Linked DNA regions of Homo sapiens. The protein of the gene in region 1 interacts with the protein of each later gene in a biochemical or structural test. Each region holds a gene or a part of one and is shown in the gene's direction. Other genes may lie near its edges.

Evidence for each region.
Region 2: the proteins of STAT1 (region 1) and NMI form a complex in vitro, tested with the Homo sapiens proteins (one study listed by BioGRID).
Region 3: the proteins of STAT1 (region 1) and ATF3 form a complex in vitro, tested with the Homo sapiens proteins (one study listed by BioGRID).

Annotation. Positions count from the first base shown.
Region 1 is NC_000002.12:190,972,643-190,976,296, reverse strand, and holds part of STAT1 (signal transducer and activator of transcription 1-alpha/beta), read left to right. Parts: intron 1-385; coding exon of another isoform or gene 386-409; coding exon 410-485; coding exon of another isoform or gene 486-489; exon of another isoform or gene 490-759; intron 760-1,364; coding exon 1,365-1,467; intron 1,468-3,654. UniProt on the Homo sapiens protein: Signal transducer and transcription activator that mediates cellular responses to interferons (IFNs), cytokine KITLG/SCF and other cytokines and other growth factors.
Region 2 is NC_000002.12:151,276,094-151,279,747, reverse strand, and holds part of NMI (N-myc-interactor), read left to right. Parts: intron 1-757; coding exon 758-920; intron 921-3,654. UniProt on the Homo sapiens protein: Acts as a signaling pathway regulator involved in innate immune system response.
Region 3 is NC_000001.11:212,615,249-212,618,902, forward strand, and holds part of ATF3 (cyclic AMP-dependent transcription factor ATF-3), read left to right. Parts: coding exon 1-13; intron 14-2,878; coding exon 2,879-2,986; intron 2,987-3,654.

The DNA of each region.
Region 1 (3,654 bases):
AGAAATCTCAATATTAGGACAATTACTTTGGAATGAAGATGTCCCCAGCTTACCTTGACAGCTGTGAATATTCATTAGCCAGGCTAATGCCAATAAACTGGATAGAACTTTGCATATTTTGGGCTCAGACTTCTTGTAAGATTTCAAGTTGTGTAAAGAGAAAGCTCCTAGCTAGTGTCCTGCTGAACACTAGCTTATTTCCAGACTGAATTCAGATCCTTCTTCTCGTTGTTTCTGCATTCCCACTAGAATTTTAGGTGACTCAGGCAGGGAGGTTATAGCTCCTTAAAGTTTTAGGAGGCTAAGCTGTCTAGAAACACAGTAGAACTTTAATCCCCCCGAAAAGTTGATGTTGTATTCTGATGGAATTTCGGTTGATGGAAAGCGTACACAATGTGTTTATTTCTAGCACCAGAGCCAATGGAACTTGATGGCCCTAAAGGAACTGGATATATCAAGACTGAGTTGATTTCTGTGTCTGAAGTGTAAGTGAACACAGAAGAGTGACATGTTTACAAACCTCAAGCCAGCCTTGCTCCTGGCTGGGGCCTGTTGAAGATGCTTGTATTTTACTTTTCCATTGTAATTGCTATCGCCATCACAGCTGAACTTGTTGAGATCCCCGTGTTACTGCCTATCAGCATTTTACTACTTTAAAAAAAAAAAAAAAGCCAAAAACCAAATTTGTATTTAAGGTATATAAATTTTCCCAAAACTGATACCCTTTGAAAAAGTATAAATAAAATGAGCAAAAGTTGATCAGAGTGGGAAAGTAGTTCTTTTCAATCTAGAAAAGGCCAAAGTAATGATTGAGATACACTGTCTCCACTTGCTTTGATTTTGTTGTTTCATTTTATAAAAGGTAGAAAAAATTTTGGAAATGTCATTGTCAGTTATTTGGCCTGCAGCACTGTCTTGGGGTGAATGGATGTAGCCTTCATGTAAAAACACTGTGTGGAGCAGCTTTATCTGCATTCAAACCTCAAGGTAGGGATGAGGGACTCCCCAGACATTTCTCTGGTGCTTTTCTGTCCAGGGTAAGCCACGAGGCATTGTCATCTCAGGGTAGTGCACCGCACATGCTCACACCTAGGCTTACCCAGGCAGAAGCGGCACAGATTCCAGTCTGGCTATTGCTTATCACATCCCTGGAGTGTGAAACATTTCCCAAGGGGCTGGGCTGGGGACATGAGCCTCCCATGAGCTGTACTTTTGCAAATGTATTTTACAAGTGTATGCACTTACCCAAAATAAAAATATAACGTGATAATTCAATTACAGACAAAAGATAAAGTGTGTAAGTATGCACTAGTGCTTTCATCACTCAGATGTTGACATTGCTCTTTTCTTTTTCCCCATTTTAGTCACCCTTCTAGACTTCAGACCACAGACAACCTGCTCCCCATGTCTCCTGAGGAGTTTGACGAGGTGTCTCGGATAGTGGGCTCTGTAGAATTCGACAGTATGGTGAGTACCACGGCTGGCCTGTGTGTAGCTCTCAATAAGTGTGTGTGCTCAGAGGCAGGGAGCGCACCATGGCAGATCCCGGGCCTGTCTGCGGGAGGGAGCCCTGGCGGAGCCAAGGAGAGTGCAGTGCTCAGATGAGCCATGACAAGTTGGAGCTGCTGGATTTAAACCACCTACATCATCAGTGGGATTTTTATTCCTCGCATTCAGCACCTTCCAAAAAACAAGTGACATTTCTAATATTCAGGTTTCCTCCTCTCCCCTTTAAAGTTGTCCATGTAGAAATTTCATATATTAAGGAACTAAGATTTCTTTGATAAGCAAATGTTTTTCTTCGGAATGCGATTTCATCACTGTGTCTAGGGGAGGGAGTGTTATTTTTAGAAAGGGAGGGACTAACGCTTGGTAGTTACAGTAATTAGAGAGAATTATACTTTAGCAGCAATGAGATTACTTCATCTGCCTTATATTTGAGAGCTAATTTGTACAAGTAGCTCCTGGGGCTGTGAAGGGCTTGCCAAGAGTAAAAGGTTCAAGGAGTGAAATAGTTAATGAGATTCGTGATAGAAATGGGAATATGATTGTCCACAAAAGGGAACATCTTCCTTTTGGAGGGTGCTTTTTTAGTATATCAACTAGTATTGTTTGCCTTTCAGCCTAAAATCCTTCCTCTTAAAGATTGTGCTTGCTTGGCTGGATTTTTGCTGATGCTGTTTAATTTTAAGCTCTTTTCCACATGGAGCTATTCCAGCTCATTTTTAAAAATTTATTTAATGCTTCCAAAAAATATCCTGAGTTATTACTGGCCTTTCTTCCTTACTGTATACCCGGTGCCTGGCAAAAAGTAGGTGCTCAACAAAGAGAGGAAGGCAGGGAGGGGAAAGGTGAGCGAGAATGAGAGGGCGTCACTCTTCAGACATTTGGGGAATGCGATGATAAGGCCTCAGTAAGATCTGCCTGGATTCAGGTTTCTCATGTGTAATTTTTTGACTTTTTTCCTCACCTTAAGCACGGGCTACAATCATTAGAGATTGTACCTTCCTACACTTTCCTGATTGTTGTTGACGAAATAGGCCATTTAGAAAAACAGTTAGCTATTGTGGCAGCGAAATAGTTTCATTCCTATTGGCAAGTGTAAAATGAACCTTTTCTGCATGTAAGAAGGATCCTGCTAGAGTTTCGCTCCCAACACTGCTATAGGCCTGGCACAAAAATGGAATAAATATAAAGCCCTATTCAGAAAATATGTTACATCACAGGAACTGTAAAATGGGGGGATTTTTTATACCTCCTTTGTTGTTCCTGAGCAAATTACATCATCATCACCACCACCATTAATAGGTGACATTAAGCACCTACAGTATACCATGTACTTCACAGGTAGTAACTCATTCAGTCCTCACAGCCACCTTCTGAGTTAGGTGTTATTGTTATTCCTACTTTGACAGATGTGGGAACAGAGCCCCTCCTCCCCACACAGCCCCTTTTATGTAACTTGACTAAGATCAAGCAGTTAGTAAATGGTAGAAAGAATATTTGAATCTACCTAGTGAGTCTCTAGTGCATGCTTTTGTCCGGTATCCTGGAAAGCCTCCCACAAAAAGCTAATCTTTGCCCCATTCAAAACATGCACCCTGAAGAAGCTGTTTGTACAGGATTGGGTTTATTCTGTTATTAAGACAAAGGCATCATGGCCTTTGGGTGAGAGGCCCGTATGTGTTTGGGATTTGGCAATCAGCATTCCATCTCTGTCATCACCATTATTGAGAAAATAGATGGATTGGTTCCCTCTCTGCAGTCCTGTGGAGCAGTTGGACTGCTCTCTCTGCTCTCAGGATGATACTGTGAGAACAATTTAAATATGCTAAGCACATGTCAGGAAACAGTTTTGTGGTCTTTGGACACTCGCTGTAGCCATTCCGTTCCATTTCAGGTGATTTTATTCATTTCATTTGTAGAATAAAATAAATCCATTTCACACACACACACACACACACACACACACACACACACCCTCTATACACCACTAAAGCCTCCCATTAAACCCATAGAAGACTTAAAGAGCTAAAAGAGGCTATAATATAAAAAAAAAAAAAGAAAAGAAAAGAAAAAGAGTTCATAATATAGGCACGGCACTGGTTAGACAACGGTTGAATCAGTCTCTAAATTGGGTTGACTTCACAATGG
Region 2 (3,654 bases), about 40 Mb from region 1:
TCCCAGCGCTTTGGGAGACCAAGGCAGGCAGATCATGAGGTCAAGAGACCATCCTGGCCAACGTGGTGAAACCCTGTCTTTGCTAAAAATACAAAATACAGAAATTAGCTCGGTGTGGTAGCGCATGCCTGTAGTTCCAGCTACGCGGGAGACTGAGGCAGGAGAATTGTTTGAACCCGGGAGGTGGAGGTTGCAGTGAGCCGAGATCACACCACTGTACTCCAGCCTGGCAACAGAGTGAGACTCTGTCTCAAAATAAATAAATAAATAAATAAAATTATCTAATTCTAGAGTCTTTCTTTTTGGATGAAATTATCTGGATTTGAAATACCATATTATACCCAACACTATATTTCATACTTTGCAGCAAAATTAAACATACTATCTAATGATTTCCTTTTGAGATAGTCTATTATTGGCACTTGTTTAAAAAGTCCTTATTCACATGAATGATGTAGGCTTTAGAACTGAACACCATACAATATTGACAGTTTAAACATTGATTAGAAAAAAGTGAGAGGATTATATATTTTTAATTTCATCTGTGAAATGATATTAAAAGATCAGCATTTGATTACTGAGTACTTACATGGGAAAAAGCAATTACTAAAAATGTTAAATAAGACCATACTCAATATTCTACAAGGTTCTAAAATTAGTGGGGAATGAATTATTGGATGACCAAATTACATTATCATTGGAAGGACTTAAGTTATTTCTCGTCTTGATTTTAATCAAACATTTTCATTTGGATTAGATTAAAGAGGATATTCCTGAAACAAAGATGAAATTCTTATCAGTTGAAACTCCTGAGAATGACAGCCAGTTGTCAAATATCTCCTGTTCGTTTCAAGTGAGCTCGAAAGTTCCTTATGAGATACAAAAAGGACAAGCACTTATCACCTTTGAAAAAGAAGAAGGTATGACTAATGTTAAAAAATATGACCATGTTATTTGGAAAGCACTTTCATAGACATTTAGCTATTACTTCGCTAATATTACTTCACTTATATTATTTCTTATCCTCATAGTGACGTTCTGAGGCAGGTATGATTATTCCCATTTTACAGATGAGAAAACTGACTCTGAGACAAGTGCCTTGAATATGATCTTGTATTCAGAAAGCCATGACTGTGGGACTTAATCCAGGTGCTATGATGATGTCCAATACCAGCCTCTTTCTACTCCACATGCTACCTCCAAATAATGATAGTAATATTTCAAGGTAGTAGAGCTGTACAGTTCTCAGAGACATTATCACATTTTATACTCACACAATTCCATAAATATAGGAGGATAGGATAGTTATTATTGTGTACTTTAAATATAGACATGCCAGAGCCAAGAAAACAGATTCTGAGGATGTTTAAGTGATTTACCTAAGGGAACATAGCCAACGAATGAGAAGAGCCTGGGAGCTAGAGATTTGGAATGAAACCTAATGTTTGCTAAGTCTGCCATGGTGAGGGCCCCTGTTCAGAGCTGGGGGTTCCTGAGTGGGGAGGATCTGGCTTTGAGTGCCAGCCTTGTCCCTTCCTAGAAGCATGATTTGGGATAGGTTCTTTATAAACCTCAGGGTTTTATACAGGTGCTTCATGGTAGTACCTACTTCATGAGGCTGCTTTGAGTATTAAATGAGAAATGTTGATAAAATACTTAGCACAATGTTGGACACTTAATACAAACTTAATGGATGTTAGTTTTTGCTACATGTTAGAAATTTTTCAGATAAGGATACAGAAGCTTAAAGAAGATAATTAACTTGCTTAAAGTCTATACGGTTAGTTGCAGAGCTTAGAGCCAAACCCTGAGAGTCCATGTACTTCCACTGGGCCAATATTTCTCTCGGTAGGCCACCAGCCCAGGCCTTTGTTCTTTTATTTAAGTTATGTGGTGAGGGACCAGATGGTGTTCCCAGCCCTTCCAGTGCTCATATTCTGACAGTCTATAACCCATGTTTCCTCAAAACTGGTGCACCACTGTAGCCTGAAAATAAATGTTGAAAGGCATTCCAGCAGGACAGTATCTGTGCGTAGAAGACATGCATCGCCAGTGTGTTTTCCTTCACCCTGGAGCTACTGCTACAGGTAGAAGAGGAGTCCAGGACTCATACTGGCGACTGGTAATCGGGATATAACTAAAAGATAGATATAAATGAGGATTTGGGAGGCAGGATTTCTGCACAGCAATTTCCTGGGAATGTTGGAAATGGAATTCTCTAAAAGCACCTACATCATTGCTTCTACGCTTGACGTGGCTCTGAGCTCCCAATCTCCTGGGACAGCAGTAGGTTTGAAACACAATTAAGTAGGAGTTGGCTCTTGATTGTCAGAGTCACAACAATTGAGACACAAGCGGTCCCTCTCAGCTGTATCAGATCACCAGATGTTGGGGGTTTGTGGAAGAGTGGGAGGGAAAGAGGATCATCTGAGTATTACTCATTGATATTTTCTGTTATTGTCTGTTGTCATTAGCAAAAAAACACAAAAACACAAAAAAACAAAAAACCATCATCCAAGTTATAGAGTCATATTTTGGTACAGTGAGTTGAATTCCCACATGGCCAAGGCCCTGCCTTCTGGCCCTTTTTTCTCTTCCTCCAGCTGTGGTGTGGTGCCATCTGGTCTGGTTGTCATAAACACATGTGAAGTTTTATAAGACAGAGAGTGAATGTCACTTATTTTCATGATACATTGGAATAGCAGCCCCAAATATCAACAACTGCAGTATTATAAACTCATGCCACACAATTAAAAATAAATGCCCACTCACATTTTTAATTGACATAGAGTTGCCTTTTGGAGTGCTAGTGATTTTTAGCATTTTACTAAACCTCTCCCATTTGCACAGGTAAATTAGACTTGACAGCTTTGTGATCAATATAGCAGGACTATCAACTTTTTAAAGAATGATTTCAAGAGCATTTTTGCAAAAGTGGAATTCGTCATTAAGTATGACCAAAAAAAAGACTCACTCTTTGATGTTCCAGCCTATGTAGTCTTTAACATGTAATCCTTGAGAAGACAGAGCAAATGAATATATATTGCTCTAGTGCTTGTAACATATTAAGGAGTAACAAATGATAAGGTTAAGTAAAATCAAGACTAATTGTACAAATGACACTTAGCCATGAAAGTTTTCCCAGCTTACTGAACATGGGACACTTTCTGGCTGTGCATTAATGTACTAGGGGAATCCTCTGGTAATTGTTAATAGTGGAAGGAAGGGTATGTGGCTGAGCTGAAGTAATATATGAATTCTGGAAGATTGTTAGGCTTATCTCTTAAGAGATAAGAGAAAAGATTCATCTTATGAGAAGAATCTAGAACTTGAGAACTTCTACATTGTGATTTTGCTGATATACTTTGACATTAATATATTCTACTTTGGGACCAAGAGCAGTGGCTCATCCTGATAATACCAGAACTTTGTCTGGGAGTCCGATGCAGGAGGATTGCTTGAGTCCAGGAGTTCCAGAGCAGCCTGGGTAACAAAGTGAGAGCTCGTCTCTACAAAAAGTTAAAAAAATTAGCTAGGCGTGGTGGCATGCACCTGTAATCATAGCTATTCTGGAAGCTGAGGTGGGAGGATCTCTTGAGCCCAGGAGTTTGAGGTTACAGTGAGCTATGATCACATCACTGCATTCCAGCTTCA
Region 3 (3,654 bases), on another chromosome or scaffold:
CACAAAAGCCGAGGTGGGTTCTATCACAGGTATTCATTCTTTCGGCACATGTTTCGCTCGCAGCCACTGTGTGTTGGGCATGTTCTAGGCAGGGGGCTGTTGTTGAGAGTGAAACAAACAAAACCACTGCCCTCAGGGAGCTTACCTTCTCCTGGGAGGAGACAGAAGTACATAACATACGTAAGTACACGTTAAGAGATGAGTGCAAAGGAGAAAAAAGCAGGGAGCGGGGCAGAGAGAACGGGTAGGGATGGGGTTGCTGGGTTTAAAAACTTTTCAGGCCAGGCATGGTGGCCCACGCTTATAATCCCAGCACTTTGAGAGGCCAAGATGGGATTATCGCTTGAGTCCAGGAGTTTGAGACCAGCCTGGGCAACACAATGAAACCCAATCTCTATGACAGTATTAGCTGGGCAAGGTGGTACATGGCCTATAGTCTCATCTACTTGCGAGGCTGAGGTGGGAGGACCGCTTGAGCCCAGGAGGTTGAGGCTGCAATGAGCCGTGATCACCTCACTGCACTCCAGCCTGGGTGATGGAGCAAGACTCATTTTGCTTTTAGAGACAGTGTTGCTCCATCACCCAGGCTGGGGTGCAGTGGGGTGATCACGGCTCATTGTAGCCTCAGTCTCCTGGGCTCAAGCGATCCTCCTGCTTCAGCCTCCCAAAACACTGGGATCACAGGGATGAGCCATTGCACCCAGCCGGGGTTGCTGTTTTAAATTAGGAAGTCAGGTAAGGATTCACTGATAGTGACTTTTGAGCAGAGGTCAAAAGGAAAGGAAGAAGGAAAGAGGAGAGGGAAGAAGCCACGTGGGTATCTGGTAAAAGAAATTAAGGGCACTGAGGTGGAAGTATTGGTGCCTGGTGGGCTGTGCAGTGGGGCAGAGTATAGGGGTGGGAGATAAATAGGGGCTGGTCATATTGGGTCTTACAGATTATTATTGTATAGATGCAGCCCTGGGCTCAAAGTGAGGTGGGAAACCACAGAAGGCTTTTGAGCAGAGAAGCAACAAGATTCAACACACACACACACACACAGATACACACACACACTTTTTTTTTTGAGACAGAGTCTTGTTCTGTCACCCAGACTGGAGTGCAGTGGCATGATCTTGGCTCACTGCAACCTCTGCCTCCCAGGTTCAAGGGATTCTCATGCCTCAGTCTTCCAAATAGCTGGGATTACAGGTGCCCGCCACACGTCTGGCTAATTTTTGAATTTTTTTAGTAGAGACGGGGTTTCTCCATGTTGGCCAGGCTGGTCTCGAACTCCTGACCTCAGGTAATCCGCCCGCCTCGGCCTCCCAAAGTGCTGGGATTACAGGTGTGAGCCACCACGCCCAGCCTTGATTTATATTTTTAAATGATCACCCTGGCTGTCATGTTGAGAATGGGCAGTAGGGGTAAGACAGAAGCTGAGTGCACAGAAAGGAGGCCGTGGCAGGAATCCACGTGAGTCAGGGGGCCTGCAGCAGGAGGGAGCAGTGCAGGTGCTGAGAAGTGGTTGGCTTTGGATCTGACTTGAAGGTAAAGCTGATTTGCTGATAGATTGGATGTGGGGTGTAAGAGAAAGGGAAGACTCAAGGGTGACTGAGTTTTCTGGCCAGCATAGCTGTAAGAATGGAGCGTCCATTTGCTGCTGAGATTTGGGATTATAGGGGTTAGGGTGGTGGCAAGAGCAGGAGGTCTGTCCTATTCTGCAGACCCCTGTGGAGATGTCAAGCAGGCAGTTGGATATGTGAGTCTGGAGTTCAGAGGACAGTCTGGGCTAGAGATAATAGAGTTGGAAATTATCGGCATATAGATGGCACTTAAAGCCATGAGTCAGGATGAGGCCACCTTCTGTGTCCAGTTGTTCTGAAGAAGCTTGGAGCGTGGTGGTCCCTGTTTTTATCACTACTAGGACCCAAGCACCCAGACAGTAGAGCAAGGACCAGGCAGCCTGCCCCACCCTTCCCTGTAGCAATGTTCACAGCCTTGGGACCAGGTGTTGCTCCAGGTTCACTTCTGTCTGACACACTTGCACTGTTCCACGCTTGGCAACCTTGGGTAAGACTCCTGGAATAATAAACATGGTGAGAAGTCTGGGAGGTGGCTTCTGGCGATGCCATAGTGGCTTAAGGATGTCAGAGCTGAGGTTCCACCATTTTATTGGCCTTTTCCTCATGGTGGCAAGTGGAAGTGTTTCAGGCTTACTCAACTGGCATGATTGCAGCCTTTGGGCAAGGAGTAGTGGGACTGACCTAAAAGACTGTCCTAGTTCACCACTTGCAGGTGGCACCCCAGCATGGGCCGATTAATGCCGCTTTGGTTGGGAATGGGCTTAGGTGCCTTTTCTACAGGAGCATCATGGGCTTCTCCCAAATTTGGGAAGCTGGTGCTCTGATGCTCCAGGTGAAGTCAGAGGTGAATGGGGTTGCCCTTGGGTCTTGAATTGAAGAAGAGGCCGGGAGTGGGTGGCTAGGTAATGATCCTGAGATCATTCCTGGTTCTCAAAGAAAGGAGATGTTTACCAGACAGAATCTGTTTCGGCTTTAAATGATTATAGTTAATACCAATAGTTATCAATTTGCATATTATCCTCATCTCAAAATCCAAATGCATTTTTAAAATTGGCTAACTTTTAATTTACTAATATATTGCCGGTATAATTTTAACTTTGATTTTTGTTGTTCACTCACGTGTGTGTGTGTGCGTGTGTGTGTGTGTGTGTGTAGGGGTTTTCACACAAAAGTCTAGAGCTTTAGTATTTCGGGGTCTTTTAGCGCTAGCATTGCCCTTGTCTGCCAGCTTTTGCTGGCAGTAAAAGGCAGTGTATTTGAGGTAGGTGGCATTTCTTACTGCCCTTTAAATGTGTTTCTTTTGGATTTTACAGGTAGCCCCTGAAGAAGATGAAAGGAAAAAGAGGCGACGAGAAAGAAATAAGATTGCAGCTGCAAAGTGCCGAAACAAGAAGAAGGAGAAGACGGAGTGCCTGCAGAAAGTGAGTGCCTTCTAGCCTTACCCTTCCTCTCGCTCACGCCTGTCTTCACCAGCTTCATGTGGCTATCAGAAGAAGAGTTAGAAAACCCCCTACTTGGTTATAGTTTCCCAAGAAGGGCCTTGTAGCTGGTAGCAGAAATGCCAGTTGCAGAATGAGGAGGTGGCAAAGCAGTTAACACAATGGATGTGACGGTGGATGTATAAAAACAGGTGTGTGAATTCGTCTGATGCCTGACTCCCAGCAGCCTCGGCCGGTTCATACATGTCCATCAGCTTCCAGGCTGCAGGACATGCCAGCCCAGTTAAAGAGGCTTCACTTGACTGTTTTCCTGAGAAAAGGAAGCTGCCAGCTCTCATTTGGCTCACTATGAAAAGCCTTTAATTAATCTCTTCAAACAAGTTATTTCCTTAATCCACAAGCAGTGGTTACACTTGCTTTGCATTCTTGTCTGGTTCCTAACTCTAGAGCCCTTCTCCCTGGCTTAGCCAGTAAGCTGAGCCCCTGGCTGCGTTCAGCCGGCCCGCCTGAGAGACACTAGGGGAAATAGCTTTTGTGGGCAAGCAGGGTGGCCGGTGGTGCTCAGCAGTCTTTCCAGTGGCTGTGTCCCTCCTCCAAATGTGGACAGGCCATGACAGAGTCTTAGCCCAAGTCCCACAGATCCCCAAAAG